Homo sapiens: one gene and its partners. The protein of the gene in region 1 binds, or shares a complex with, the protein of each later gene. Each region holds a gene or a part of one and is shown in the gene's direction. Other genes may lie near its edges.

What was found.
Region 2: INTS4 (region 1) and INTS6 share a complex: the UniProt entries of both Homo sapiens proteins name them as parts of the integrator complex.
Region 3: INTS4 (region 1) and INTS12 share a complex: the UniProt entries of both Homo sapiens proteins name them as parts of the integrator complex.
Region 4: INTS4 (region 1) and INTS1 share a complex: the UniProt entries of both Homo sapiens proteins name them as parts of the integrator complex.

Annotation. Positions count from the first base shown.
Region 1 is NC_000011.10:77,984,667-77,991,693, reverse strand, and holds part of INTS4 (integrator complex subunit 4), read left to right. Parts: intron 1-394; coding exon 395-586; intron 587-7,027. UniProt on the Homo sapiens protein: Component of the integrator complex, a multiprotein complex that terminates RNA polymerase II (Pol II) transcription in the promoter-proximal region of genes.
Region 2 is NC_000013.11:51,373,019-51,380,045, reverse strand, and holds part of INTS6 (integrator complex subunit 6), read left to right. Parts: intron 1-473; coding exon 474-584; intron 585-1,591; coding exon 1,592-1,807; intron 1,808-3,871; coding exon 3,872-3,998; intron 3,999-5,249; coding exon 5,250-5,392; intron 5,393-5,606; coding exon 5,607-5,838; intron 5,839-7,027. UniProt on the Homo sapiens protein: Component of the integrator complex, a multiprotein complex that terminates RNA polymerase II (Pol II) transcription in the promoter-proximal region of genes.
Region 3 is NC_000004.12:105,691,678-105,698,704, reverse strand, and holds part of INTS12 (integrator complex subunit 12), read left to right. Parts: intron 1-3,036; coding exon 3,037-3,189; intron 3,190-5,218; coding exon 5,219-5,406; intron 5,407-6,569; coding exon 6,570-6,729; intron 6,730-7,027. UniProt on the Homo sapiens protein: Component of the integrator complex, a multiprotein complex that terminates RNA polymerase II (Pol II) transcription in the promoter-proximal region of genes.
Region 4 is NC_000007.14:1,480,363-1,487,389, reverse strand, and holds part of INTS1 (integrator complex subunit 1), read left to right. Parts: coding exon 1-70; intron 71-288; coding exon 289-468; intron 469-615; coding exon 616-765; intron 766-1,920; coding exon 1,921-2,100; intron 2,101-2,187; coding exon 2,188-2,292; intron 2,293-3,219; coding exon 3,220-3,387; intron 3,388-3,536; coding exon 3,537-3,648; coding exon of another isoform or gene 3,649-3,689; intron 3,690-4,682; coding exon 4,683-4,844; intron 4,845-5,901; coding exon 5,902-6,048; intron 6,049-6,456; coding exon 6,457-6,555; intron 6,556-6,948; coding exon 6,949-7,027. UniProt on the Homo sapiens protein: Component of the integrator complex, a multiprotein complex that terminates RNA polymerase II (Pol II) transcription in the promoter-proximal region of genes.

The DNA of each region.
Region 1 (7,027 bases):
GTGTAAGGCTGGGCACCGTGGCTCATGCTTGTAATCCCAGCACTTTGGGAGGCTGAGGTGCCAGGATTGCTTGAGCCCAGGAGTTAAGACCAGCCTGGGCAACATAGAGAGACTCCATCTCTAAGAAAAAAAAAAAGTATACCTATTTTACAGAGACATAAACTGAGACTCGGAGAAATTAAATGACTTGCCTAAAGTCATAGGAACTGGTAAAGGCAAAATTGAGACTCATGGCCTTGTCACCAACCCGGTACTCTTTCTGGTTTATAATACTGTATTTTCCTAAGTCCATCAGCTAAATATATTATTTGGTATAATGGAAAATCATTTCCACCAAATGAGGCAAAGTTAAATTTGCAGATTCTGTGTTTTCGATTTTCTCTACCCCTTGCAGCCACAGGAGGAAATTGCTACTAAGAAACTCCGACTAACAAAACCAAGTAAATCTGCAGCACTCCACATAGATCTGTGTAAAGCTACCTCCCCAGCAGATGCTTTGCAATACTTGCTCCAGTTTGCCAGGAAGCCTGTCGAGGCGGAAAGCGTAGAGGGAGTAGTCAGGATTCTCTTGGAACATTATTACAAGGTAAGAAAATCTTGAGGATCTGATGGGAGTATATCATGGGAGTTGTATCATGTCTGCAGAATGGTTAATATTACAAATAAATAGGGTATTCATTAGGAAGCTTTTATTGAGTGTCTTCCAAGTGCTAGGTACTATGGATACCGAGATAAAAAAGATACAGATCTTGACCTCAGAAAGTTATACTGTGTATAGTAGATGGAAACAAGACATGTCAATGATAAGGTGCATCATACTGCTGAAGTTACTGTGAGTGCAGTATGTGCAGAGTACAGTGGAAGCACAAAAGAGGAGTAAATATCAATCATGACCCATTCATCTCTGGAATGTGGTCCTGCTGTTCCTTTCCTAATTCATGGCCCTCATATCTAATTGCAGTGGCCCTCTTTTTTAATTAAAAATACATTTTTTTTTTTTTTTTTTTGGAGACAGAGTCTCGCTCTGTTGCCCATGCTGGAGTGCAGTAGTGCAATCTTGGCTCGCTGCAACCTCTGCCTCCTGGGTTCAAGCGATTCTCCTGCCTCAGCCTCCTTAGTAGCTGGGATTACAGGCACGTGCCACCACACCCTGCTAATTTTTGTATTTTTAGTAGAGACGGGGTTTTGCCATGTTGGCCAGGCTGGTCTCGAACTCCTGACTTTAAGTGATGCAGCCACCTTGGCCTCCCAAAGTGTTAGGATTACAGGCGTGAGCCACTGCGTCTGGCCAAAAAAACTGTTTTTGAGACAGAGGCTCACTGTCACCCAGCCTAGAGTTTAGTGGCATCATCATAGGTCACTGTAGCCTGGAACTCCTGGGCTTAAGTGATTCTCCTGGCTCAGCCTTCCACGTAGGTGGGACTGCAGACGTGCCACTACTCCAGGCTAAGTTTTGCATTTTTTTTTTTTTTTTTTTTGAGACTTGGTCTGTCACTCAGCCTGGAGTATAGTGGTGGCACAATCTTGGCTCACTGCAACCTCCGTCTCTTTGGTTTAAGTGATTCTCCTGCGTCAGCCTCCAGAGTGGCTAGGACCGCAGGTGTGTGACACCACACCCAGCTAATTTTTTTTGTATTTTTAGTAGAGGTGGGGTTTTGCTGTGTTGGCCAGGCTGGTCTTGTACTCCTGACCTCAAGTGATCCATGCACCCTGGCCTCCCAAAGTGCTGGGATTGCAAGCGTGAGCTACCATTCCCAGCCCAAAAATCATTATTATTATTACTATTATTATTTTTGAGATGGGGTCTTGCTTTCTCGCCCAGGCGGGAGTGCAGTGGTGCTATCACGGCTCACTGTACCCTCGACCTCCGAGGCTCAATTGATCCTCCTGCCTCAGCCTTCTGAGTAGCTGGGACTACAGGCATGTGCAGCATGCCTGGCTAATTTTTGTATTTTTTTTTTTTTTTTGTAGAGACAGGGCTTTGCTATGTTGCACAGGCTGATCTCGAATTCCTGGGCTCAAGCAATCCACCCTCCTTGGGCTTCCAAATTGCTGAGATTACAGGTGTGAACCACCACACTCAGCCCCCAAATTGTTAAGCTTATGGAAAAGTAGATAAAATACTATAGTGACCTACCAAATATCCATTCCTAGAATTTAACAGTTATTAGTATTTTGCCAAATTTGCTCTATTTTTTCGCTGAATTTTATTTTATTTTGTTATTATTTTTTTTGAGATGAGTCTCACTCTGTTGCCCAGGCTGGAGTGTAATAGCACTCCTGGGTTCAAGCAGTTCTCCTGCCTCAGCCTCCCAAGTAGCTGGGACTACAGGAGTGCGCCATCACGCTCAGCTAATTCTGTATTTTTAGTAGAGATGGGGTTTCACCATGTTGGCCAGGCTAGTCTCGAATTCCAGACCTCGGGTGATCCACCTGCCTCGGCCTCCCAAAGTGCTGGGATTACAGGTGTGAGCCACCGCGCCCAGCCTTGTTTTGTTGAATTTTTAAAAAGATATGTCATTTTTTTCTAATTATTTCATTACATATCTATTAAAAAGGGATACCTTTTTGTTGTTTTCTTTTTTTTTCTCACTGCTATGAGAAAGTAGAGGGACTTTTTATTTTTTAACATAGCCACCTAACCCTAATGAATAAAGTTAAGTAATTCTTTAATGTCATCTAAGAATTAGTTGATATTTAGATTTCTGTAGTTGTTCTCCCAGTACCTTTTTATAGTTGATGTATTCAAATCAAAATGCAAACCAGGTCCCCACATGGCATTCAGTCTTTTCAAAAATCTACAACAGTTACTATTTTGGTGACATTGATTTGATGAAGAAACTGAGACAGTTCTTTTGTAAAATGTCTTGTTTTCTGAATTCATTTACTTCTTTAAGGATTAACTTGTTCCTCTGTTCTCTGTATTTACTATGAACTGAAAGTTAGATCTATAGGCTTTGTTAGATTTAAGTTAAGCATATTTTTGACAATTTTAAGACTATGTTATAAATGGTGACTTGTACTTCATATTGCAGCTATCAGCATGCAAATGTCACCGTTACATTGAGGTCTTCCTTTACCCTTCTGTTTCATATCGAAACTGCCTATCCCCACCCCGCACTTCCTAGTCCCCTTCCTTGATTTTGTTTTCTCCATAGTAATTACCATCTTCTAATATTCTGTATAATTTCTTGTTAATTATGTTCCTTGTCCATTTCCCCATGCAGGAACATAAGCTTCCCTTGAGCAGGGATTTTTATGTTTTTTAATTGTTGTTTCTACAGAATCAAGAACAGTGCCTGGTAAAATAAATATTTGTTGAATGAATAAATGAATTAATTGATGCTTTTGTGATACATTTTACTCAACAAATATATATCAGACTTTGTTCTGGGCACTGGACGGTGTCCATTAGCACAATTGTTAAGTCTTATGCGTTGCAATTGTTTGCCATATGTGTCTATCTCCTTCAGACTTTGAGCTCCGTAAATTCAGAGGCTGCAGATCCATTAGTCTCTATCCCAGTGCCTGGCAGGTTCCTAGGAACATTGAAGGGACATTATAAATGTTTCACTTATGTTTTACGTGAATAAAATCAGGCTTTCTTTTTTTGTTGTTCTTTTCTTTAAAAAATTTTTTAAAAAATCGTATCTATCTATCTAGAGACTGGGTTATGAGACTGGCTAATTTTTATATTTTTGATAGAGATGAGGTTTCACCATGTTACCAAGGTTGGTCTCAAACTCCTGGGCTCAAGCGATTCACCTACCTCAGCCTCCCAAAGTGCTGGGATTACAGGCATGAACCACTGTGCCTGGCATCTTTTTGAGTGTTGCTCTGTTGCCCAATCTAGAGTGCAATGGCGTGATCACTGCCCACTGAAGTCTGGACTCCCAGGCTCAAGCCATCCTCCCACCTCAGCCTCCTGAGGAGCTGGGACCACAGGCACATGCCACCACTCCCGGCTAATTTTTTCTTTTTAATTTTTTTTGTAGAGATGGAGTCTCTCTGTGTTGCCCAGGCTGGTCGCGAATTCCTGAGCTCAAGCAACCCTCCTGCTTGGCCCTCCCAAAGGATTGGGATTACAGACGTGAGCTACCACATCTGACCAAAATCAGGATTTCTGTTCTCAAGAAGTTTTCGATCTCTCAGTGATCTATTTTCCGTTAGTCTTTTTCTTAGCAATATCTACCATTATTATTATATTAAAGATCTGTTACCAATAATCATCTATAATAATACTTCTTAGAGCAGTTAACATTATATTGCTTGTTAGAGTTTGAAAGCACTTTCCATATGTAATATTTTATTTAATCCTGGTGACAGCACCATTGTTATCTCTAAATTCCAGATATGGAACTAAGCTTAGAGCTGTTTAGTATCCAAGGTCACCCAGCTAGTAAATGGAAGGTATGGATTTGAACTTGGGTTTTTTTTTTAAAAAACCTTTTGTTATGGAACATTTCAGATATATACTATGTAAGTAAAGAGAATAGTTTAATTAATTCCCATGTACCCATTACCTGGCTTCAAAAATTATCATTTTGTGGCCAAACTTGTTTCATTTTCCCTCTTCCCCAATCCACTTCTACTTCTTTACCCTCACCTTCTCCACCAGATTCTTATGAAAATAAATTCCTGGCATCATATTATTTTAATCATAAATTTTGATTTATATCTTTAAGTGGTGAAGACTCTTTTTTTATTATTATACTTTAGGTTCTAGGGCACATGTGCACAACGTGCAGGTTTGTTACATGTGTATACATGTGCCATGTTGGCTTGCTGCACCCATTAACTCATCATTTACTTTAGGTATTTCTCCTAATGCTATCCCTCCCCCAGCCCCCCACTCCCCAACAGGCCCCGGTGTGTGATGTTTCCCGCCCTGTGTCCAAGTGTTCTCACTGTTCAATTCCCACCTATGAGTGAGAACATGCGGTGTTTGGTTTTCTGTCCTTGTGATAGTTTGCTGAGAAGGATGGTTTTCAGCTTCATCCATTTCCCTGCGAAGGACATGAACGCATCCTTTTTTATGGCTGCATAGTATTCCATGGTGTATATGTGCCACATTTTCTTAATCCAGTCTATCGTTGGTGGACATTTGGGTTACTTCCAAGTCTTTGCTCTTGTGAATAGTGCCGCAATAAACATACGTGCACATGTATCTTTATAGTAGCATGATTTATAATCCTTTGGGTATATACCCAGTAATGGGATTGCTGGGTCAAATGGTATTTCTAGTTCTAGATCCTTGAGGAATTGCCGCACTCTCTTCCACAATGGTTGAACTAATTTACACTCCCAACAGTGTAAAAGTGTTCCTATTTCTCCACATCCTCTCCAGCATCTGTTGTTGCCTGACTTTTTAATGATTGCCATTCTAACTGATGTGAGATGGTATCTCATTGTGGTTTTGATTTGCATTTCTCTGATGACCAGTGATGGTGAGCATTTTTTCATGTGTCTGTTGGCTGCATAAATGTGGCGAAGACTCTTAAAAAACATAATCTTTTGTCATGTCTAAAAGCAAAATTTAACTCAGGTGTTCTGATGTCAGATCTCAAGCACTTTAACCAGTCCATGCTGCATGCATTAATCAAGTGGACCCTAGCTCCTAAGGAAATGAGGAGGGATGCCAGATGGACCCAGTTCTAGATTGTTGACCATAGTGTTTTTTACCCTTTCTTCTGTTCTATCCAGAAATGTGGTATTTTATGTTAATATTTTAGTGGATAAAACTACTCTGGCTTCTGCTTTTTCCTACTTTTTTTTTGTGATCAGGCATTAGTATCTGAACTTATTTCACATGATTGATTCTTCACTTATGCTACTGTGCTAGTAGCTATGGAGGATGCAGAGCTGTGAGATATGTTCTTTGTCCTTTAGGGGCTAGCAGTGTAGTCGGCAGACCATATATGTAGTATGTAGATAGTAAGTGCTAAAGTTTTCCATTTGCTTATTTTTTCATTTGCTCAGCATGTCTGAATACTTACTCTGTGCCAGGCTTTGTGCTTCATGTTGGTAATAGAGATGTAGATGATGTAATCCCTGATCTGAGTCTTGAGTAAATAAGAAATGAATTAATAACAATACAGTGTTTCAGGTCTTATGAAATCTGGGGTAGGTTATGATATGGCCTCAAAGAAGGGGGCGATTAATTATTGGAAGCAGGGATCCAGAAATGCATTATAGAGTGGTAGCGATGCTTGAGAAAAGTCCTAGAAATAGATTTTGGCCAGTTGGAAGACAGGGGGAAAGACATTTTAGTTGTGAGCAACCGTGAACATGGGCATGGAGATGTGAGACAGGCTATCACATTAGAAGAAATGCAGCTAGTTTGGCTGGTGCAGATTTTAGGTTGGGAGCTCATCAAGAGATAAGACCAGAAGATTTGGAAGGCATCTGATTCTAAAGGGCCTTGTATTCTACCTTGTCAGTTTTTGTTTTAGAAATGTCACTCTGAGGGGAAGTATGGAGGATAAAGGAATTGGATGGACTGGAGTTAGAGTGACCAATTAGAAGACTGTAAGTTTGGGGAAAGGTGATGAAAGCCTGAACCAAGACAGTTTTAATGGTCAGAAGAAACAATTATTAGAGAAGGCTTCCCTGGAGGTAATTCTGTTTTTAGCTCAGGTGTGAAGGAGATCATTTATGTGTCATAGTAGAAGGAGTGCTAAGGGATTATTTCAGAAAGTAAAAGAACTTGAGTAAAGTATCCAAATGGATAAGGAATGTCACTAGGTCAGATGCTCTCTTATCTGCTTTTTTTTTTTTTTCATTTACATTTATTTTCTTTTCCCCCCCTTTTTTCCCTTTTTTTTCCTAACAAGGTCTCACTCCAGGCTGGAGTGCAGTGGTGCTATCATGGTTCACTGAAACCTCCACCTCCCAGGCTTATGCAATCCTCTCACCTCAGCCTCCTAAGTAGCTGGAACTATAGGCATGTGCCACCATGCCTGGCTAATCATTTCTTAATTGTGGTAACAATTAAAATTTATTATCTTAACCATTTTAAGTGTGCAGT
Region 2 (7,027 bases), on another chromosome or scaffold:
ATTTTACAAATGAGAAACTAAGCCACAGAGAGCCAGAGAGCTTATTTATAATCTGATCTAGAATCATATAACTAGTGAGTGGTTGAGCAGCTAATTACTCAAAAGTAGAAATCTTGCATTTTCCTTGAGTGTTTTTCACTTACTACCCATGTTTTATCAGAGCTACCTCTAGAATGTGTCTTCTGTCCATTTATTCCAAACCTAGTTTCTCCCAGTGGTACCAAGGAAGACCAGTATCTTATCCTTCTTGTCTTGGGGAGTTATTATGGCCTCTAATCCTTTTTAACTACTTCAAACGGCCTTTCATCCCACTGACAAACATTTTACTGAAACATAAATACGATTGTGTTACTTCCTTATTGAGGAAAAGAAGGGGAAATAATTTTTTGGAGAAAATTTTAAGACAGACTATACATGGAACCATAAGTTTTTAATAAGCTTAATATTGAATGATGTTTTCTTTTTTCCTATAGCCCTTGAAGAAAGCTGTTAGGATGATGGGAGCACCTAACCTAATAGCAGACAGTATGGAATATGGACTTAGTTACAGTGTCATTTCATACCTCAAAAAACTGAGTCAACAGGTAATATCAAGAAATAGAGTGAGCCATTAAGTATTTTGAATGGTTTTGGCTAGGATGGTTAAACAGGTTAAAAGCTAGTTCTTGATGGTTCTAATGGAATTCCATTATATTAATATATTACATTTTAGAGCCATATATTACATAATTCTGTCTCACATCCATGGTGTGCTATGTTTTGAAACATTAATTTGAAAATTATATAATAATTCCTAATTTATGAAAATGGCTTCATGAGTGTGGTCCTAGACTTGCTATATGTGAACATTATTTATCTTTTGAGAAATTTAGATTAGAAAGTCATTTTTCCTTAAAAAAGAAAAAAAAAACTCTTTATGTTTTGAAACCTGCAGATTTTTCTTTCAGAATGGGAGTTTCTTTGAAATGTTTGTAGAAAACACTGAATTTTGTCATTCTGGCCATAAGTCACATTAATAAATACTATAGTAGTCAAGCAGTATATAGTTTAACTGACTGTGAAATTATTAATGTCCTATGAAATACATTATTTCTCCAGTACTTCTGACATTGCTACCTTAACTACAAATCAAAAGGCAGTTTGGGAGGAGTCAAAACATTGCTTCTTGCTTTCCAGGGAAGAACTGCATAATTATTTGCCATATTGATGTGCTAGTAAAAATGTCTTACATAATGATGATTTTAAAAAAATAATTTACCGTCACCCCTGAATTGGGAATACACATTTTTGTTTAGTGTGCATTTATATTTCATGGTTTAGGTATAGTGGGTATTAATAAATAAAATAATAAATTGAAATTGTGTTTGTCCTGCTCCAAAAGTTTAGAGTTGTAATGATTTAAAATCATAAGACATTGTTGTTTAAACTATGTTTAATTTACCCAATACTTGACATAAACTATGCTACTTGAGTTTTTAACTTCTTATATACTTAAAAAATATATATTTAATTTATAGAAGATCATAACCATTAGTATCTGATTTATTAATTTAGATTTTATCAAGATAATTCTGACTTATTTTTACTTTAGGCCAAAATAGAATCTGATCGAGTCATTGGATCTGTAGGCAAAAAAGTAGTACAGGAGACTGGAATAAAAGTCCGGAGCCGATCACATGGTTTATCAATGGCATATAGGAAAGATTTTCAACAACTCCTCCAGGGAATTTCAGAGGATGTCCCTCACAGACTGCTAGACCTTAATATGAAGGAATACACTGGGTTCCAAGTTGCTTTGCTGAATAAGGTAATAATCATGAATTTAGTGCTACTCTAGTTATGTTCTGTTATGTTACTGGATAAATCACATTTTCTGTTAACTCTGACATTCAGTTTATCCAGACTTTAAAGAGTACTTCTGTACTCTTGTAGACTAATGATCATTATACTGTCACTGCTAGAATTAAAACAGTGTACATGGTGTGTGAATGAATGGATAGATTGATGAAGAGTAAACTAACTTGTTTATTTTATAGATGAGAAAACAGAGGTTTAGAAATTGCTTTAAGTTGCAGTAGTGGATGGTAGAATTCACTATAGTTTTGTACTTAAACTGATGACCCTATTAGACCCACAGCATGATCCAAAAATGCTTTGTGAGTACTCATGGTTACAGATATCTTTATCCCAGCAGCCTTTTTGTAGAAATAGGCAAGCTGATTCTAAAATTTATATGGAAATGTAAAGGTCCTGGAATAGCCAAAACAATTTTAGAAGAATAAAGTTGGAAGACTTATATCATCTGATTTTAAAACTTATTGTAAAACTTACTACAGTGATCCATGCAGTGTGGTGCCATCATAAGGATAAACATAGGAGATTAGTGGAACAGAATTGAGTCTAGATGTAGGCCCTCACACACACAGTCAATTCTTAACAAAGATATTAAAATAAGGTAGTGGATAAGAAGACAGTCTTTTAAACAAATGGAACAATTGGATATCCATATGCAAAATAATGAATTTGACCATTACCTCATATTATTTGAAGTGGTCGTGATCTTAAATGTAAGAACAAAAACTATAAACTTCTAGAAGAAAACATAGGAAAAAATCTTTGTGATGTTGAGTTAGCAAAGATTTCTAAAAGCACATAGCAAAAATGTTGATAAATTGAATTTCATTAAAATAAAAAATAAACTTTGCTCTTTAAAAGAAACATTAAAAATGAAGAGGGAAGCTACAGCTTGGGAGAAAAGCACATATCAAATAAAGGACTTGTATCAAAATATATAAAGAATTCATATAACTCAATAATAAAAGGACAAACATGGGCAAAATATTTGAACAGACATTTCACCAAAGAAAATATGCAAATACAAATAAGAACATGAAGTAACACTCAGCCTTATCAGCCATTAGGGAAATGCAAATTAAAACCATAACGAGATACTACTTCATAACTGCTAGAATGAATAAAATTTAAAAGACAAAAAATACAGGGATTGATGAGAATGTGGAGCAACCCTCCTAACATTACTGATAGAAAATAGTTGATATTTTCTTAAGAAGTGTAAACATAAATTTGCTGTACAATCAGTCATTCTACTTGTAGGCTTAGCATGCCAACATGGCAGCATTTTTCATAATAGCCAAAAACTTGTAACAGTCCAAGTGCCCATCAGCTGGTGAATAGATAAAGAAGATGTGGTGTGTCCATATAATAGACTACTACTCTGGAATAAAAAGGAACAAACTACTGATACATGAATAATGTCAATGAATCTCAAAAACATCATGCTAATTGAAAGAAGCCAAGTACAAAAGATTAGACGTTGCAAAATTCCATTTATAAAATGGAGCATAGAAAGAAAGCAAGTCACGTGGTTGCCTGGGGATAGGAATAGTGATTGACTGCAAGTGGGTACAACAAACTTGGGGATGGTGGAAATGGATTATGATGATGGTTTCACAACTATAAATTTACTAACATTCATCAAACTATATACTTAAAATAGGTGATTTTATGGTATATAAATTACACATCAAAGCTGTTTTTTAAAAAACTTCAGTTTTTAAAATTTGGAGATTGATTTTTACTTAAATGAGTTTACTTCTTTTATCCAGAATATATAATAAAATCTTTAGAGTTAGATGGTGAATTGAGATTGTTTGGTTGAGCTCACTACCAAATTTTCATCTTTTGGCCCTGAACCGGTACATTAAGATTATATCATATGTCTTTATTTTATTTTTTTTAAGCTAACCAGTTTATATATCTTATTTCCAAACCTATGCTGCAGGCTAGAGATTTTAGTCTCTTGTAATTCTATGTTTGACAATAAATTTTGTCCTCGAATGTTGTTTAATAGGATTTGAAGCCACAGACATTTAGAAATGCTTATGACATACCAAGACGAAATCTTTTGGATCACTTAACAAGAATGAGATCTAATCTTTTGAAGAGCACTCGCAGATTTCTGAAAGGACAGGACGAAGGTTAGAACATAGTTTCAATACTGGTATTTTTAATTTTTTTTCTTTATAGTCTGAAAAAGCATAGCATGGTGATGTAAATTTCAAAGAATTATTACAGTACTATAACATTCTTATTGTAAGTTCAAACAAATGAAGTAAAAGGTGAATCATCCCTGATTCTGTACCTTTCTTCCTACCATCACTGTTGCCCCAAATTCTCTTCCCTAGAGGTAACAACCTTTCTTAACAGTTTAGTTTCCTTTTATAGCTTTTCTCATGCATTCATGCGCGCACGCGCGCGCACACACACACACACACACACACACACACACACCCACTTATCAAACTGTATACTTAAAATAAGTGATTTTTCTTATCTCAATCATTTTCTTGAGATAATACCAGTATCTGATGGTTTAACTCTGGATGGCCAGTTTCATGACATTTTCTGATAATTCCTTCTTCACCTTTATCCATGGCACCTACTATAAATCAAGTCAGATGAGACTTTAAACGTTTGCCACCTCTGATTTAAGAGTTCTAACAATAATTTTATATAAAAGAGTTAGCTATGCGACTTTTTTTTTTTTTTACCATACTGTACTTCCATTTTCTACAAATTCTACTATAATTAAATTCTGTTTATTTGGAATAGCGCAGAAGAGAAGAGATACATCTTTCACGGTAAGATCACACATACTTTTTTTTTTTTTTTTTGAGTCAGAGCCTTGCTCTGTCGCCCAGGCTGGAGTGCAGTGGTGTGATCTCGGCTCACTGCAACCTCCGCATCCTGGGTTCAAGCGATTCTCCTCCTTAGCCTCCCTAGTAGCTGGGATTACAGGCACGTGCCACCATGCCCTGCTAATTTTTGTATTTTTAATAGAGATGGGATTTTGCCATGTTGGCCAGGCTGGTCTCATTCCTTACCTCAAGTGATCCGGATGTCTGCCTCAGCCTCCCGAAGTGCTGGGATTACAGGCATGAGCCACTGCGCCTGGCCACACATACTTTCTGTATGTGTGGAATTAATGGCAATGTATGTATGTGTGAAATTAATGGCAATTTTTGTTTTGTTTAGATGATGAGATCAGTATTTTAAATTTTATTTTAAAATATTTTGTCGCAGTGGTTATAATTGCACCAAACAAATTTAGAATATGTTGGTAAAGAAGACTGTCTAGAATAACACTAGGTAGCATTCATATATAAGGAAACATTATTTGAGAACTAATTGGAGGTTAACTTTTTTTGCTGTTGTATTCTTTTTGAAAGATCAAGTGCACAGTGTTCCTATAGCACAAATGGGGAACTACCAGGAATACCTCAAGCAAGTACCTTCTCCACTAAGAGAACTTGATCCTGATCAGCCACGAAGGTTGCATACATTTGGCAACCCCTTTAAGCTGGATAAGAAGGTAATTTTGAAATGTTCTATTATGTAATTTGTTTATGGTAGGCACTGTCAGTTTTATAGTTCTTAATTTAACTGAAGTAAGCTGAAGCTATTTTCCTGGTAGAGTATCTAATAAATATGAACAGAATATAGTTACCTTCATTGGAATTGACACTGGTTGTGCCATTTAAACATTGTTTGTAAATTCAAGAAAGTTGTATTCTTTTTTGCTAAAGGGTATGATGATAGATGAAGCAGATGAATTTGTGGCTGGACCTCAAAATAAACATAAACGACCCGGAGAACCAAATATGCAAGGGATCCCTAAAAGACGTCGGTGTATGTCTCCACTACTAAGAGGCAGACAGCAGAATCCTGTTGTAAACAATCATATTGGGGGAAAAGGACCACCTGCACCTACAACTCAAGCACAGCCAGATCTTATTAAACCTCTTCCTCTTCATAAAAGTAAGAATTGTTTTTTTCTTAAACATTATTTGCTGCCTTTTGGTTCCTTTTCAAGGAAGATATTTTTGTTATAGATTATAGAAGGAAATTGATTAGTAGTACAATGAGTGAATGAATGTATAGAAAATTTGTTTAAATGAGCATGTAATCATTTTTGTATGTCTTTTTAATGAACATTTGAACATTTCTTATTTATGATGCTTTATTAGCTATTATGTTCTAACATACATTTGCAAATCTTTCAAAATAATACTTTCGAAAGGAGCATTATCACTATCCACAGAAAGATGGTTTTCAATTTCAGTTGAAGTCAACTAATTATTAAATATGTATGCTATTTTGGATAATGCTGTGCTTTGAGGTATACCACTGAAGACAGGAGTGATCTCTGCCCTCATTTATAATCAGCAAGGAAGGTCAGTCATTGAACAGATATTGGAAGTATGTTGAATGTTACGAAAAAGATGTCAAGTATATTCTGGAAGCATTTGGCAAGAGGATTTAAGTCAATGAAGTCAAGGCACTTAACTGAAGAAGTTAATGCTTAAGCCAAAAGCTGTGCCGTTTGCTTATGCTGGAGCAATAGTATGTGCAGAGGCATAAAGAGAAAGACATTAAGGGAATTTAAAAAATTCCAGTATAGCAAGGGTGTTGGGAATGAGGTAAGGTGAGAACTGAAAGATAGAAGCCAGATTATGGAAGGTCTTGGAAGCTATTTTCAACTTTATTCTAAGGACAGTGAGAATCCACTGAAAGGCTTAAAATGATGGTGACCTAATCTGATTAGCATTTTATGAAGACCAGGTTGACTGTAATGTGTGTGGACTATTATCAGAGAGGAGCAAGAATGAATGTAGGGAAACCCTAATGAATTAATGGACTTATCAATTATATATAGTGGTCATACTTACAGCATGTTAACTGAAGGGAAACAAAATATTATATGACTCCTGATGGAAGTATCCAATACTGCCTTTGAAGTTGTCTTACCCAAAAAAAAAAAAACCAAACACCAAAATTGAACATCAATGTAATCAAACCAATTTATAGGAAATACAGGGGACAGAGAAACATGTGGGATACCGTTAGTAAAATCCAGATTGTAGAAAACTCTACAGGACAAAGAATCTGTTGGGTTTTTTTCCTGGAAAAAAAATATTTTTTCCAGAAAAATAAAAGGGGTACGGAA
Region 3 (7,027 bases), on another chromosome or scaffold:
ATTTCTTCTATCCATTCTCATTGCAGTAGGTTCAGTGAGTTCAGATCGACCAAATCAATATGGCTCTACAAAACATACTACCAAATTCATTCCACTGTGGGTGTTGGTATTGTCCAGATAGGGAAACCTATTATTACTAAAGAAAAAAAATTGTTTTAATGGGGTTCTAAAATGGAAGTTTATCTCTTAAAGAACATGAAAAATTTGTTGTGATTAAAAAGCACGCTGCCCTTAGGTTTCTAGCTAGAGTTCATTTCTCTTGATCAGTTTTCAGAAACTACTTTGTTATAGGTTTTTAAAGCCCAGGTCCATTTAATTTTAGCCTTCAGCTGAATATTTTCATCACTAGATTTGTGTAAGAAGAGTGATTTATGCCAGTGTTTCTCAAACTTTAGCATGGATAAGAATCACCTGGAGGTAATGCTTACTAACATTACCAGGTCTCCAAGTGTATTCTAACATGAATATTGGTTGATATTCATTTACATTAATGAGGAAGGCAAATGTGAAATAATGGAGTTAAAACTTAACTCATCCGTCAACAACTAGAACAACTTTTTTGCTGAATTAGGTAATAGTTTAATACTGCATGACTTTGTCTTCAATTTTTTAGTTACACACAATACACGTTTTTGTTTTTCTGTTGTTTTTTGTTGAGACAGGGTCTCACTGTGTTACCCAGGCTGGAGTGCAGTGGCACAATCTTGGCTCACTGCGCTCTCTCCCTCCCAGGTTCAAGCAATCCTCCCACTTCAGCCTCTTGAGTAGCTAAGACTACAGGTGCATGCCACCATGCTTGGCTAATTTTTTTATATTTTGTGGAGACAGCATTTTGCCATGTTGCCCAGGTTGGTCTCAAACTCCTGGACTCAAGTGATCTGCCCACCTTGGCTTCCCAAAGTGCTGGGATTACAGGCATGTGTCACCACACCTGCCCACCACACATTTTTAAGTTTAATCTGCATTATTAACATTTTCTTCAACACTTTACTAAGTCTACACCAGTGATCAACAGACTTTATAAAGAGCCAAATAGTAAGAATTCTAGATTTTGTGTGCCAGATGGTCTCCATTGCAACTATTTAATTCTGCCATGGTAATGTGAACGCAGCCATACATTATAAAATGAATGGGTGTGGCTGTGTTCTAATATAACTGTTTATAAAAAACTATTTATAGGCCTCAGTTTGCTAACCCGTTGTCTAAACAATCAGCATAATAATATATCAAGCCCTGCCACCACTAGATCTGAGGACCCATTCCTCCTTCCTTTTTCTTCTCTTCCCCCCTCAGAGGTAACCACTATTCTGAAATTGTTGTGTATTATTCCCATTTATACTTTTGTACTTTTACATATTATCACAGTAAAATAGACTGCACTCAGCTGCCTTAGTTTTGTTTAGAATGATGGGAAAGTGCCCTCCTTTTGGGGGAGGGGGAATTCCAAGAGCTGCCAAAGTTTATGCATACTATTAATGACAACAAATAACAAGTTATCTATATCAGCAAAGCTATAATACATGAATAAGGAATTGAATTTAAACAGAATGAAAAGACAAGCCACAGACTGAGAGAAAATATTTGCAAATCATATATCTGATAAAGGCCTTGTGCCCAAAATCTATGAAGAACTCTTTTAACTTAGTAATAAAACAAACAGATTCATTTCTTTTAAATGGGCAAAATATTTTATCAAATAGTTTACCAAAGAAGATATATGTATGCCATATGAACACTTGAAAAGCTGCTCAACATCATTAGTTACTGGGGAAATTTAAATTAAATCTAAATGAGATATCACTACATACCTATTAGAACATCTACAATTTAAAAAGAGTAGCCATACAAAGCATTGGTGAGGATGGGAAGGAACTGGAACTCTCTCATATATGCTTGGTGGAAATATAAAATGGTACTGCCACAGTTTGGCAGTTTCTCAAGTAATTAAGCATATATTAATACTTACCATATAACCCACTCCTATTTTTTCTAGAGAAATAAAAACATAGATATATATATAAATACTTGTACATGAATATTCATAACAGCTTTATTTGTAATAGTCCCAAACTGCAGACAACCCAAATATCCATCAATAGGTAAATTGATAAATAAATTGTAGTCTATTCATTCAATGGAATATTATTCAGCAATAAAAAGGAATTAACTATTGATACACTAAACAACATGGATGAATCTCAAAATAAATATGCTGAGTAGAAGAAGCCAGACCAAAAAAGAATATGATTCCATTTATATAAATTTCTAGGAAATGCAAACTAATGTATTGTTACAGAAAACAGATAAGTGATGATGATGATGGGAGACATATTTTTCTATATGCCTGATGATGGGAGACATATTTTTCTTGCTTGATGATGGGAGACATATTTTTCTATAGGGTGTATACCTGTAAGAGAGTAATTACAAAGGGCCACAAGGAAATTTGGAGAGATGATGGATATGTTCATTATGTTGATTGTAGTGATGGTGTCACAGACGTATACATATGTCAAAACTTATCAAATGTTACACTTTAAGTAGGTGTAGTTTGGGCCAGGTGTGGTGGTACACGTCTTTAATCCCAGCACTTTGGGAGGCCGAGGTGGGCGGATCATTTGAGGCCGGAGTTTGAGACCAGTGTGGCCAACATGGTGAAACGCCATCTGTACTGAAACTACAAAAATCAGCCGGGTGTGGTGGTGCACCTGTAGTCCCAGATACACGGGAGGCTGAGGCAGGAGAATCACTTGAACCCAGGAGGCAGAGGTTGCAGTGAGCCAAGACTGTGCCACAGCACTCCACTCCAGCCTGGGCAACAGAGTGAGACTCTGTCCCAAAAAATAAAAATAAAAAAGGTACAGTTTGTATATCAATTATTTCTCAATAAAGCTATTTAACTATTTAAGAAAGGAATATTACATTGGTTATAATGAAATGTCTTAATTTTTAACTGAAAATTGTTTATATTAATGATCTTTTTTTATGATGATCAGTCTAAATATTTAATTACTGGTACCTTTTTTCATCTTTTAGGATGTGGAGCCACCCAAAATTTCAAGCACAAAAAACATTTCCATTAAGCAAGAGCCCAAAATATCATCCAGTCTTCCTTCTGGTAATAATAATGGCAAGGTCCTCACAACTGAAAAGGTAAAGAAGGAAGCTGAAAAGAGACCTGCTGATAAAGTAAGATTTTATTTTAATCTTGTTAAAAGAAAGTAAATTAGTTGTTCCATAAGCAGAAAGAAACAATGTTTTATGCCTATTTCTTTTATATAATAATGGGTATAGGTATATAATAATCAACACTCAGTGAATATATATTGATAGCTATAGATTTTGACTTTTCAAAAAATGAGTAAAATTTACAAATTTTAAAGTTAAGTGGTTAAAAGTTATTGTCAATAAATATTTGAGTCCTAGGGAGTATAGTAACTTTGAGTGTAAACTTTAATCTATGCCTCAGAGATCCTAGATGGAACAGTTGTTAAGAAGAAAAGATAGATACACTTTGGGAGGCCGAGGCAGGTAGACTGCTTGAGCTCAGGAGTTCAAGATCAGCCTGGGCAACATGATGAAACCCCATCTCTACAAAAAATACAAAAATCATCTGGGTGTGGTGGCATGCACCTGTAGTCCCAGCTGTTTGTGGGCGGGTGGGGGGTGGGAGGATTGCTTGAGCCCAGGAGGCAGAGATTGCAGTGAGCGGTGATCGTGCCACTGCACTCCAGCCTGGGTGACAGAGTGAGGCGCTGTCTCAAAAAAAAAGGAAAGCAAGAAAGAAAAGATGGGAAAGAGTATAGATGTAAATGACTAAACATAAACTTTATAGAGTGGTATGCACCTGAACAGTGCCAAAGATGATTCTTGGATTGTCTATTTTTAGATGATTTCTACATATAGTAATTAAGATTTTAGTAGTTAGAAAAAAATACATTTGAAAGATATCTTCAGTAACCCTTGCCCTCAAGATGGAGTATATTATCCCGTATGTTTTCATACTTTTGCTAAATAGTGGCTATTCATAAACTACATTAGATTATTTCTCTGTTTTTAGATCTACATAAGTGAAGCTGGGTGTGGTGGCTCATGCCTGTAATCCCAGCACTTTGGGAGGTCAAGGCAGGAGGATCACTTGAGGTCAGCAGGTCGGGAGTTGGCCACCCTGGCCAACATGGCAAAACCCCCTCTCTACTAAAAATACAAAAATTAGCCAGGTGTGGTGGCGCACACCTGTAGTTCCAGCACCTCAGGAGGCTGAGACGTGAGAATCACTCTAACCCAGCAGGCGGAGGTTACAGTGAGCAGAGATTGTGCCACTGCACTCCAGCCTGGGCAACACTGCAAGACTCTGTCTTAAAAAAAAAATTATGTAAATGTTATCATACTGTGTGTGTGTATATCCTTTGGTAACTTTTTCTCCACTCAACTATGTGCTTTTGAAATGTATCTTTGTTAATGCATGTAGATCTAGATTTCTTTTAGCTACTACATAATACCAGTTTATCATTCCCCTACTGATTTATCATAGGGGAATGATTAACCAGTTTATCATTCCCCTACTGATGCACAATTAGATATTTCTCCTTTGTTTCTATTACAATGGAGTTTGAGTGAGCTACTTTATACATATGTCATGTTAATAGTTTCTATAGGATGTATACCTATAAGTGAATATAATAGGATATGACATCTTCAACATTACTAGGCATTGCCAAATTTCTATCAAAAGTAGATGTACTAAATTTACACTGTCATCAACAAAGTATAAGAATTCCAAATTCCATGTCTTATCAGACTTTTTGATTTTTGCCAAATCTAATGGGTATATTGATAATATTTATATCTTAAAGAAGGGAATCCGAATTTGCTTTGAAGCAAATATGTGTTAAGTCTGTATGGTAGATACTAGTCTAAGTAAATCCATCGATCTTCCATAATTCTTTAGTAGATAGAAGAGTACAAAGAGAAATACAAATATTTGTTAAACTGTTCTGATTTATTTATTTCTATCTTGCTGGTTTCATTTAATATACTAATAAATTCATTGCAATTCTTCTACAGATCTTTAATGTGCACATCTGTCCCTAACTATGTGAATATATCTGTAAAATGGACTTGTTCATTGCCAATTGTCCTTCTCACTCGTCTTTCAGTGACTTAAAGTTTATTCTACCACATTACTTTATCATTTTCTGATGCCTGCTTTTTATAGATGAAATCAGACATCACTGAAGGAGTTGATATTCCAAAGAAACCTAGATTGGAGAAACCAGAAACACAGTCATCTCCCATTACTGTCCAAAGTAGCAAGGATTTACCTATGGCTGACCTTTCCAGTTTTGAGGAGACCAGTGCTGATGATTTTGCCATGGAGATGGGATTGGCCTGCGTTGTTTGTAGGTAAGTTGTACCTTGCCACAGATTCTTTTGTTACTTTATAAAGAACACATGACCCTTTCCACTCCTCAACCCCCAAAATCAGAAAAATTGTTGTGCATTTTCTATTTTGTTTTTACTATTTGGAACTGGGGTGGAGATAAGTAGGTAACTGCCCATATAACAATTTAGCATATTGAAAATTGTCAACTATTTTGTCTTTCCCAACTATGGCTTTTAAATCTGTTATGTTGTAACATTTTCTGCATTTTTGGGTTCCAGAGGGAAAGTGATTATTATATTATGATATATATGCCTTTGATAATCTAAGGCTATGGTGATTGCTTTTTGTGCTGTTGAAATTTATACTTTTTTATACACACATGGCTTCATTCTATTAATCTGATCAGACATTTATTGAGCACCCTATGTGTGCACAGTAATGTGCTAAGGACTGTGGATAATTAGGTCCAGTACTCACCTTTAGGTGACTCATATTAATGAAGAACAACAACAACATACAGCTAACTAATATAAGGGAATTTAATGGAGATACAAAATGTTATGAGGCTGTTGGAAGACTAATCAGAGTCTACTACCTTCTGAGAGAAAGGCAAAAATTATGACGAGAAATGACGAGAAAATAGCCAAATTTAATTAAGGCATTCTATATATTTATTAATGGTTGACCATAAGCTTTAAAAGCTTATGCTTTTGTGCATGCCAAGTGTTGGGGTTTGTTATTTGCTCTTTGGGTTTCTGGGATTTTTTTTCTTTTTAATATACCAAACTTTACCAGAACAACCTGGAAATAACTTTTTTTTTTTTTTTTTTTTTTTGAGACAGAGTCTTACTCTGTCACCAAGGCTGGAGTGCAGTGGCATGATCTTGGCTCACTGCAGCGTCCATCTCCTGGGTTCAAGCGATTCTCCTGCCTCAGCCTCCTGAGTAGTGGGGATTATAGGTGTGTACCACCATGCCCAGCTGATTTTTGTATTTTTAGTAGAGACAGGGTTTCACCGTGTCAGCCAGGCTGGTCTTGAACTCCTGACTTCAAATGATCCGCCTGCCTTGGCCTCCCAAAGTGCTGGGATTACAGGCATGAGCCAGCACACCTGGCCCCTGAAATAACTTTAAATTATGGCATTTAAAAAAGTAGTGTAATGTTTAATGGTATGTTTTCTTAGGCAAATGATGGTGGCATCTGGCAATCAATTAGTAGAATGTCAGGAGTGCCATAATCTCTACCACCGAGATTGTCATAAACCCCAGGTGACAGACAAGGAAGCGAATGACCCTCGCCTGGTGTGGTATTGTGCCCGATGTACCAGACAAATGAAAAGAATGGTAGGAATCATATTTTTCTTTATTTTAAACAGTCTGTCAATGTTTTTGTTGGTATGTGCTTTCAAAACAAAGATTTGAATATTTAAGATATTGAAAAAATAAATAATATAAGCTGATTATTTATTTATATGTATAGTATGTACATGTGATTAATATTTCTATTGCTAAAGACCAGACCATGTTATGTGCATTTTTCTCTTTTTAGTTTTATCTAATTCTAATATAGATAAAACAAGATTGGTGACACACAAATTATGAATATTCCTTACTAGTCTGTCAATGTATTGACAAACATTTT
Region 4 (7,027 bases), on another chromosome or scaffold:
CCTCCGCCTCGGGCACCTCTTGTGCCGCAGCCGAAACCCTGACTTTCTCCTCCACATCATCCAGCGGCAGGTGAGTGCCGAGGCTCCAGGAGGTAGAGATGGTGGTCTTGGGAGGCCCGGAACCTTCCGGAGGCCTTGGTGGCCAGAAGAGGGCAGGACACACCTGGATGCGGGGCCCATGAGCTGGCTGCTGCGTGTCGCCCTTTCCGGCTCCGCGGTCACCCGGGGGGCTGGCGGCAGGTGTTGGGCCTGGAAGGTGCTGAGCGGGCGCCACTGTCGCCTGCCCAGGCCTCCTCGCAGTCCATGCCCTGGCTGGCGGACCTGGTACAGTCCAGCGAGGGCTCCCTGGACGTGCTGCCCGTGCAGTGTCTGTGCGAGTTCCTGCTGCACGATGCTGTGGACGATGCTGCTTCCGGGGAGGAGGACGACGAGGGCGAGAGCAAGGAGCAGAAGGCCAAGAAGCGGCAGGTCAGGGCCGCCCACCCCTCAGCCCCCCCGCCTCTCACCCCGCACCCCTGTCAGGGCAACCCATGCCTGAGCCCACCAGCCGCGCACCCCACGTCCTACCCGCCTGGCCTGTCACCTGCACCCCTGAGAGCCCCTTCCTCCCTGCAGAGGCAACAGAAGCAGCGGCAGCTGCTGGGCCGCCTGCAGGACCTGCTACTGGGCCCGAAGGCTGATGAGCAGACCACGTGTGAGGTGCTGGACTACTTCTTGCGGCGCCTCGGCTCCTCCCAGGTGGCCTCCCGCGTGCTGGCCATGAAGGTGAGGTGGTGGGCGGGTCTTTCTGCGCACGCTCTTCATGTTTAAAATGAGTAGGCTGGGGACCGGGCACGGTGGCTCACGCCTGTCATCCCAGCACTTTGGGAGGCCAAGGCAGGCAGATTACCTGAGGTCAGGAGTTGGAGACCAGCCTGGCCAACATGGTGAAATCCCGTCTCTATTAAAAATAGAAAAAATTAGCTGGGCGTGGTGGAGGGGGCCTGTAATCCCAGGTACTCTGGAGGCTGAGGCAGGAGACTCGCTTGTACCTAGGAGGCGGAGGTTGAGGTGAGCCAAGATTGTGCCACTGTACTCCAGCCTGGGCAACAAGTGAAACTCCATCTCAAAAAAAAAAAAATAAATAAATGAAAAATAAAGAAGTAAAATGAGTAGGCCTGGGGCAGTGGCTTGCTCTTGTCATCCCAGCACTTTGGGAGGCCGAGGTGGGAGCATCACTTGAGTCCAGGAGTTTGAGACCAGCCTGGGCAACACAGGAAGATCCTCTCTCTACAAAAACTGAAAAAATTAGCCAGGTGTGGTAGTGTGTGCCTGTGTTCCCAGCTACTTGGGAAGCTGAGGCAGGAGGATCACTTGAGCCCAGGAGTTTGAGACCAGCCTGGGCAACATAATGATACCCATCTCTACAAAAAATAAAAGATGAGAAAAATGAGCTGGGTGTGGCAGCATGCACCTGTGGTCCAAGCCACTTGGGAGGCTGAGATGGGAGAATCACTTGAGGCTGTAGTGAGCTGTGATCACACCACTGCACTCCAGCCTAGGCAACAGAATGAGACCCTGTCTTAAAAAGGAAAAGTAAAAATCAAATGAGTGTTCAGTGCACTCTGACTGTATTTTAAGTTCCTTCCCTGCGTAGGAAGGATGCGCTAGTGAAACGTGAAGGTGGACCCTGCCGCCTGCCTGGTGTTCCTTTCTTGCTGGTGACGGGAGGGTCCAGAGTGGCTTCAGGAACTTGAACAGAAGCATTTAACAGAAAGAGCTCAGTCTCGTTTTTCCCTTTTACCTGCGGCCTCTCCCGTGGGAAGCAAGCGCCACATTCTCCTCGGGGCTCTGAGGGCACCATGCGTGTGCTCCCGGGGCCAGGGTGAGACCCTGCCTGCACTGCCGAAAGCCGGCCCAGCTCATGAGTGTCTGCCACAGGGTTTGTCGCTGGTGCTTTCGGAGGGCAGCCTGCGGGACGGGGAGGAGAAGGAGCCCCCCATGGAGGAGGATGTGGGGGACACAGATGTGCTGCAGGGCTATCAGTGGCTGCTGCGGGACCTGCCTCGCCTGCCTCTGTTCGACAGCGTCAGGAGCACCACAGCCCTGGCCCTGCAGCAGGTGAGGGCGCTGACCGGGGCCGCGGCAGGGAAAGATGAGAGGGCCGCAGCCCTGCCCTGTTGCCGCTCAGACCACCCTCCCCTCCAGGCAATCCACATGGAGACTGATCCCCAGACCATCAGCGCCTACCTGATCTACTTGTCCCAGCACACGCCTGTGGAGGAGCAGGCCCAGCACAGCGACCTGGCCCTGGTGAGGCAGCAGGGTCAGCCAGCAGTGTGGCCCTGGGGAGGGGACGGGGCCAGCCGGCAGTGTGGCCCTGGGGAGGGGACGGGGCCAGCCGGCAGTGTGGCCCTGGGGAGGGGACGGGGCCAGCCGGCAGTGTGGCCCTGGGGAGGGGACGGGGTCAGCACAGAGACCCTGCCCTGGGGAGGGTAAGGGGCCAGTGGTGCAGTGCCCTGGGCTGGCGGCTTCTTGGGCCACAGGGAGGCATTGAGGGTGGGAGGGCCGTCACGGCTGCTGTGCTGGGGCTTCTATGACCCCGTGGCCACCTGTGTCCCTTCCTTAGTCACCACTCACTCCCTGGAGCCTTTCTCCCCAGACCCTGAGGATGCGAAGCCACGGGGGTGAGGGTGCCTTGTTCACAGCAGGGTGGAATCTGAGCCATCAGCCTTCTCCCCGACGCCAGGAGGGTTTGGGCTGTGGGCCCAGGTCGCTGGGCACCTGCCCGCTGTCCTCAGCATCTCTAGCTCACATGTGTGGCGCTGACTCCCATCTTCTCTCCTGGGTGCTGTCCTTCTCTGCTGGGCTGCTTCTCACTTTGCATCACGGTTCTCTTGTCCACAACCTGCGCTGTGACCTAGTGAAAGTTGGTGGCCCGAGTCCTCAGGGAATGAGCGATAGGTGAACAGATGGTGGCTGCCGGGCAGAGGGCAGCAGCGTCCGCTTTCAGGGCCTGGTCATTGTCCCTGGCTGTGAGAGTCGTGTCCTCCCTCCCCCCTGGAGAGTCCGACCCAGCTCTGGTCGTCTTCCCTGGCGGCCTGCGGCTGAGTGAGGGTCTGCGGTGCCGCGGGCCCTGCTTAAGATCCCAGTGAGAGCGTGCCTGCGACGAGGTCACCCCAGCTGGCCGGAGAGCAGAGCTGTCTCGGAGCCTCTGACGCCCCCCTGTCCACACACCAGGACGTGGCCCGGCTGGTCGTGGAGCGCTCCACCATCATGTCCCACCTCTTCTCGAAGCTCTCCCCGAGTGCCGCGTCGGACGCCGTGCTGAGCGCTCTGTTGTCCATCTTCTCACGCTACGTGAGGCGCATGCGGCAGAGCAAGGAGGGCGAGGAGGTCTACAGCTGGGTGAGGGCGAGGAGGTCTACGGCCGGGTGAGGGCGAGGAGGTCTACGGCTGGGTGAGGCTGCACGGCACGCTCGGTGCCAGCTGGGTACCCTCGGCGCTGGCTCAGGGTCCCTGAACCTTACGGCCTGACTCCACCTCTTTTCCCACAGTCGGAGTCTCAGGACCAGGTCTTCCTACGCTGGAGCAGCGGGGAGACAGCCACCATGCACATCCTCGTGGTCCATGCCATGGTGATCCTGCTGACGCTGGGCCCGCCTCGAGGTGAGCCGCCACAGGCCCCGGGAGGGGCAGCTTCGTGCCAGGTGGGCCACAGCCCTGACCACACCCAGCGGCTTCCGCATCCTTGCCTTGCTTCTGGGCGGGAAGCCCCCCAGCCCTTCAACCCTGTGTCCTGGCTTCTCTCCTAAAGAGGAGGCTGCAGTCCGTCCCGCGTGTCTCTGAGCACTTGGTGGACGTGTGGGAGATCCCCACGTGGTGGGACCTCCCAGCCTGTAGAGCCCTGAGCTGGAGGGCCTGGTACAGCCTGGGGTCAGAGTCCTCACTGCCCCAGCCTAACCGTGTAGGCCTGCGGTGCCTGGGAGGCGGCAAACTCGGGATTTCACCGTGTGGAGGTGCGACATGAGGCTGCCAGGCAAGTGGGTCCTCTCCCCGGGGCCCAGGCGAGTGACCCTGAGGACGCTCTGGCCAGCGCAGTGTCTGGAACCCAGCGCCTACCCAGCCGTGCCCTCTGCGGCCGCAGCCTTCCCCTTTACTCCTGGCTGACACCATGAACTGCTCCCACGTTCACCCCGTTGTGTCTGTCAGTGGGGGAAGGGGGCGGAACCCTCATGCTGGGGTTCGGGTGGACGTGGGTGGGTGGTGACCCCTGTTGGGAGGCAGACACAGTCACAGGCGTCGCCCTTGGGAAGGGCAGCCGGAGAAGCTGGCCCTGTGTGGGCCTGGGCCTGTGGGGTTTCCCAGTGGCTTTGCGGAGCCAGAGAGCTGGATGGGACCTGGTCCAGCCAAGCAAAGCCCCGAGGGCAGGGGCTGGATGGGGACACGCACATGTCCCCTTGGCCACGACAAAATGGCAGTGATGCTGCTTGCCTTCCTGCAGCATCTGTGAGGATCAAATGCGTGCACCTACGCAAAGCATCCGCACATAGCAAGTGCTCACCTAGCACAGGAGCCCCGTGCTCCTCCCAAGTCTCAGTTTCCTTCTCGGGAGAGGAGGTGCCTCTAGCCTTGGCACCAGCGGTGCTTGGGGCTGGGCCCCGGTGGGTCTGAAGGCTGCTCACCCGTTGTCCTTCCTGAAGCCGACGACAGCGAGTTCCAGGCGCTGCTGGACATCTGGTTTCCGGAGGAGAAGCCACTGCCCACCGCCTTCCTGGTGGACACATCGGAGGAGGCGCTGCTGCTTCCTGACTGGCTGAAGCTGCGCATGATCCGTTCTGAGGTGCTCCGCCTGGTGGACGCCGGTACGGTCCAGGCTGGGCTTGGGCAGGGGCTGCTGACTCAGGGGTCCCGGGCCCCTTGCCTGCTCCTTGTGGGCCTGGGCAGCCTCCGGCTGTGGCAGAGGAGAAGACTGGCCGGGTAGCCTCAGGGGATCCTGCAGACCATATGTCCTGGCCACAGCAGGCTGTGCTGGACCCTGGGAGGAGACCTAGGGCAGCCTGTGCTGGCCCCGTCCGAGAGGGTCTTACTGTCAGGCTCAGGGGTCTAGAGTGAGAAACAGGTCCTCGATGGAAAAAAGAGAAAGTGGTCTGGGGTTGGAGAGGAGGAGGAGAAGTGGTGGGGCCTCTGGGTGGGTCCCTGAAGGATTTGGGGGTTGGAGCTGCAGCCGGGGACCCCAGCAAGGACTGAGCAAGGGGCCTGGGCCCACGTAGGTCAGTAGGGCTGGTGCCTGCTCACAGTGAGGAGACACTGGGGGCAGCTTGGTGAGTGAGTGGGGCTGGCTCTGGAAACCCATGACTGCCAAGGGGTCTAGGCTGTTGTGTGCCCCCGGAAGCCACCGATGGCTTCGGGGCAAGAGCGCCCTGAGCACTGAGAGAAGATAGTCACAGCAGCCTGCGTGCAGCTTCGGAAGTGTACTGCGCCGTGCCACCATAGGCCCTCTGGAGCGCCCACCCACCCCTGGGGATGGGGCCCACACAGCTGCCATCCAGGGTGCAAGGTGGTCCCGACACGCTGCCCCCTTGTGCGGCCCCAGGTCTCGGGTGGGGTCACCGAGCCCACGTGGCCCAGGGTCTCAGGTGGGGCTGCCGAGTGTGCACTGCCCCAGGTCTCGGGTGGGGCTGCCGAGTGTGCACTGCCCCAGGTCTTGGGTGGGGTCACCGAGCCCACGTGGCCCAGGGTCTCAGGTGGGGCTGCCGAGTGTGCACTGCCCCAGGTCTTGGGTGGGGTCACCGAGCCCACGTGGCCCAGGGTCTCAGGTGGGTGGGGTCACTGCACACAGGCAGCCCCAGGTCTCGGGTGGGGTCCCGAGTGCGCATTGCCCGGGTTTTGGGTGGCGTTACGGAGCGCGTGCACCCTCAGCCCTGCAGGACCTGGAGCCGCAGCAGCTGCTGCTGTTCGTGCAGTCGTTTGGCATCCCCGTGTCCAGCATGAGCAAACTCCTCCAGTTCCTGGACCAGGCAGTGGCCCACGACCCCCAGACTCTGGAGCAGAACATCATGGACAAGAGTAAGATGCCAGGGACCTGCGGAGTGGGTTCACACACGCTGACCGAGCCCCAGCCCGGCCAGGCTTTTGGGGCCTGGGTGCGAGCGGGTGGGTGATCCGAGGTCGGGTGGGTGTGGGTGGCACTCGAGGGCAGGCTTAGACCTGTGGGTTGGTGAGGCTGGCACAGTCAGGAGGGAGCCGAGGCCTGGGCCTGCCCCAACCCTGGGGCCAGGCACCCCCTAGGGCCGTGTTTTGAGCTTGGAGGGAGCTGTTGGGGCCTCAGTGCTGACTGAGCTCACCCAGCTTCTGAAGTCCTTGGGAAGTGCTGGTGACGGTGGGGGCATCTCCAACTCTGGTTTCTGTGGAGAGGGAAGGACCTGCTCCCTGGCCCCTGGCCGCGCCCAGGTGTGACCCTGCTACGGTTTGCAGATTACATGGCCCACCTGGTGGAGGTCCAGCATGAGCGCGGCGCCTCCGGAGGCCAGACTTTCCACTCCTTGCTCACAGCCTCCCTGCCGCCCCGCCGAGGTACTGGGGAGGGGTGGGGCCAGCACAGAGACCCAGCCTGGGGAGGGGTGGGGCCAACACAGAGACCCAGCCTGGGGAGGGGGACGGGGCCTGCACAGCCACACAGGGCAGTGCACACTTGCTGATGCCACCTGAGAGGGGCCCCCACAGAAACTCTCAGCCTGTCTTTGGGCAGCATTTGCCTCTGGCCAGCATGCACGTTCCTGTTCAGAGTCTTGAGATCCCTGTGGACCTGAGCGAGACCTGGGGTCCTTGGGGAACACAGAGCCCAGGTCTGAGCTCTTCCTCCTGGGTGACAGTCCCCGGGCAGGACTCGCCATGGCTTGTACAGTTCCCACCGCTGGAAGCAGGTCAGAAAGTGTCCAGCCACTGACAGTTCTCCTGTCTCTGCAGACAGCACAGAGGCACCCAAACCAAAGAGCAGCCCAGAGCAGCCCATAGGCCAGGGCCGGATTCGGGTGGGGACCCAGCT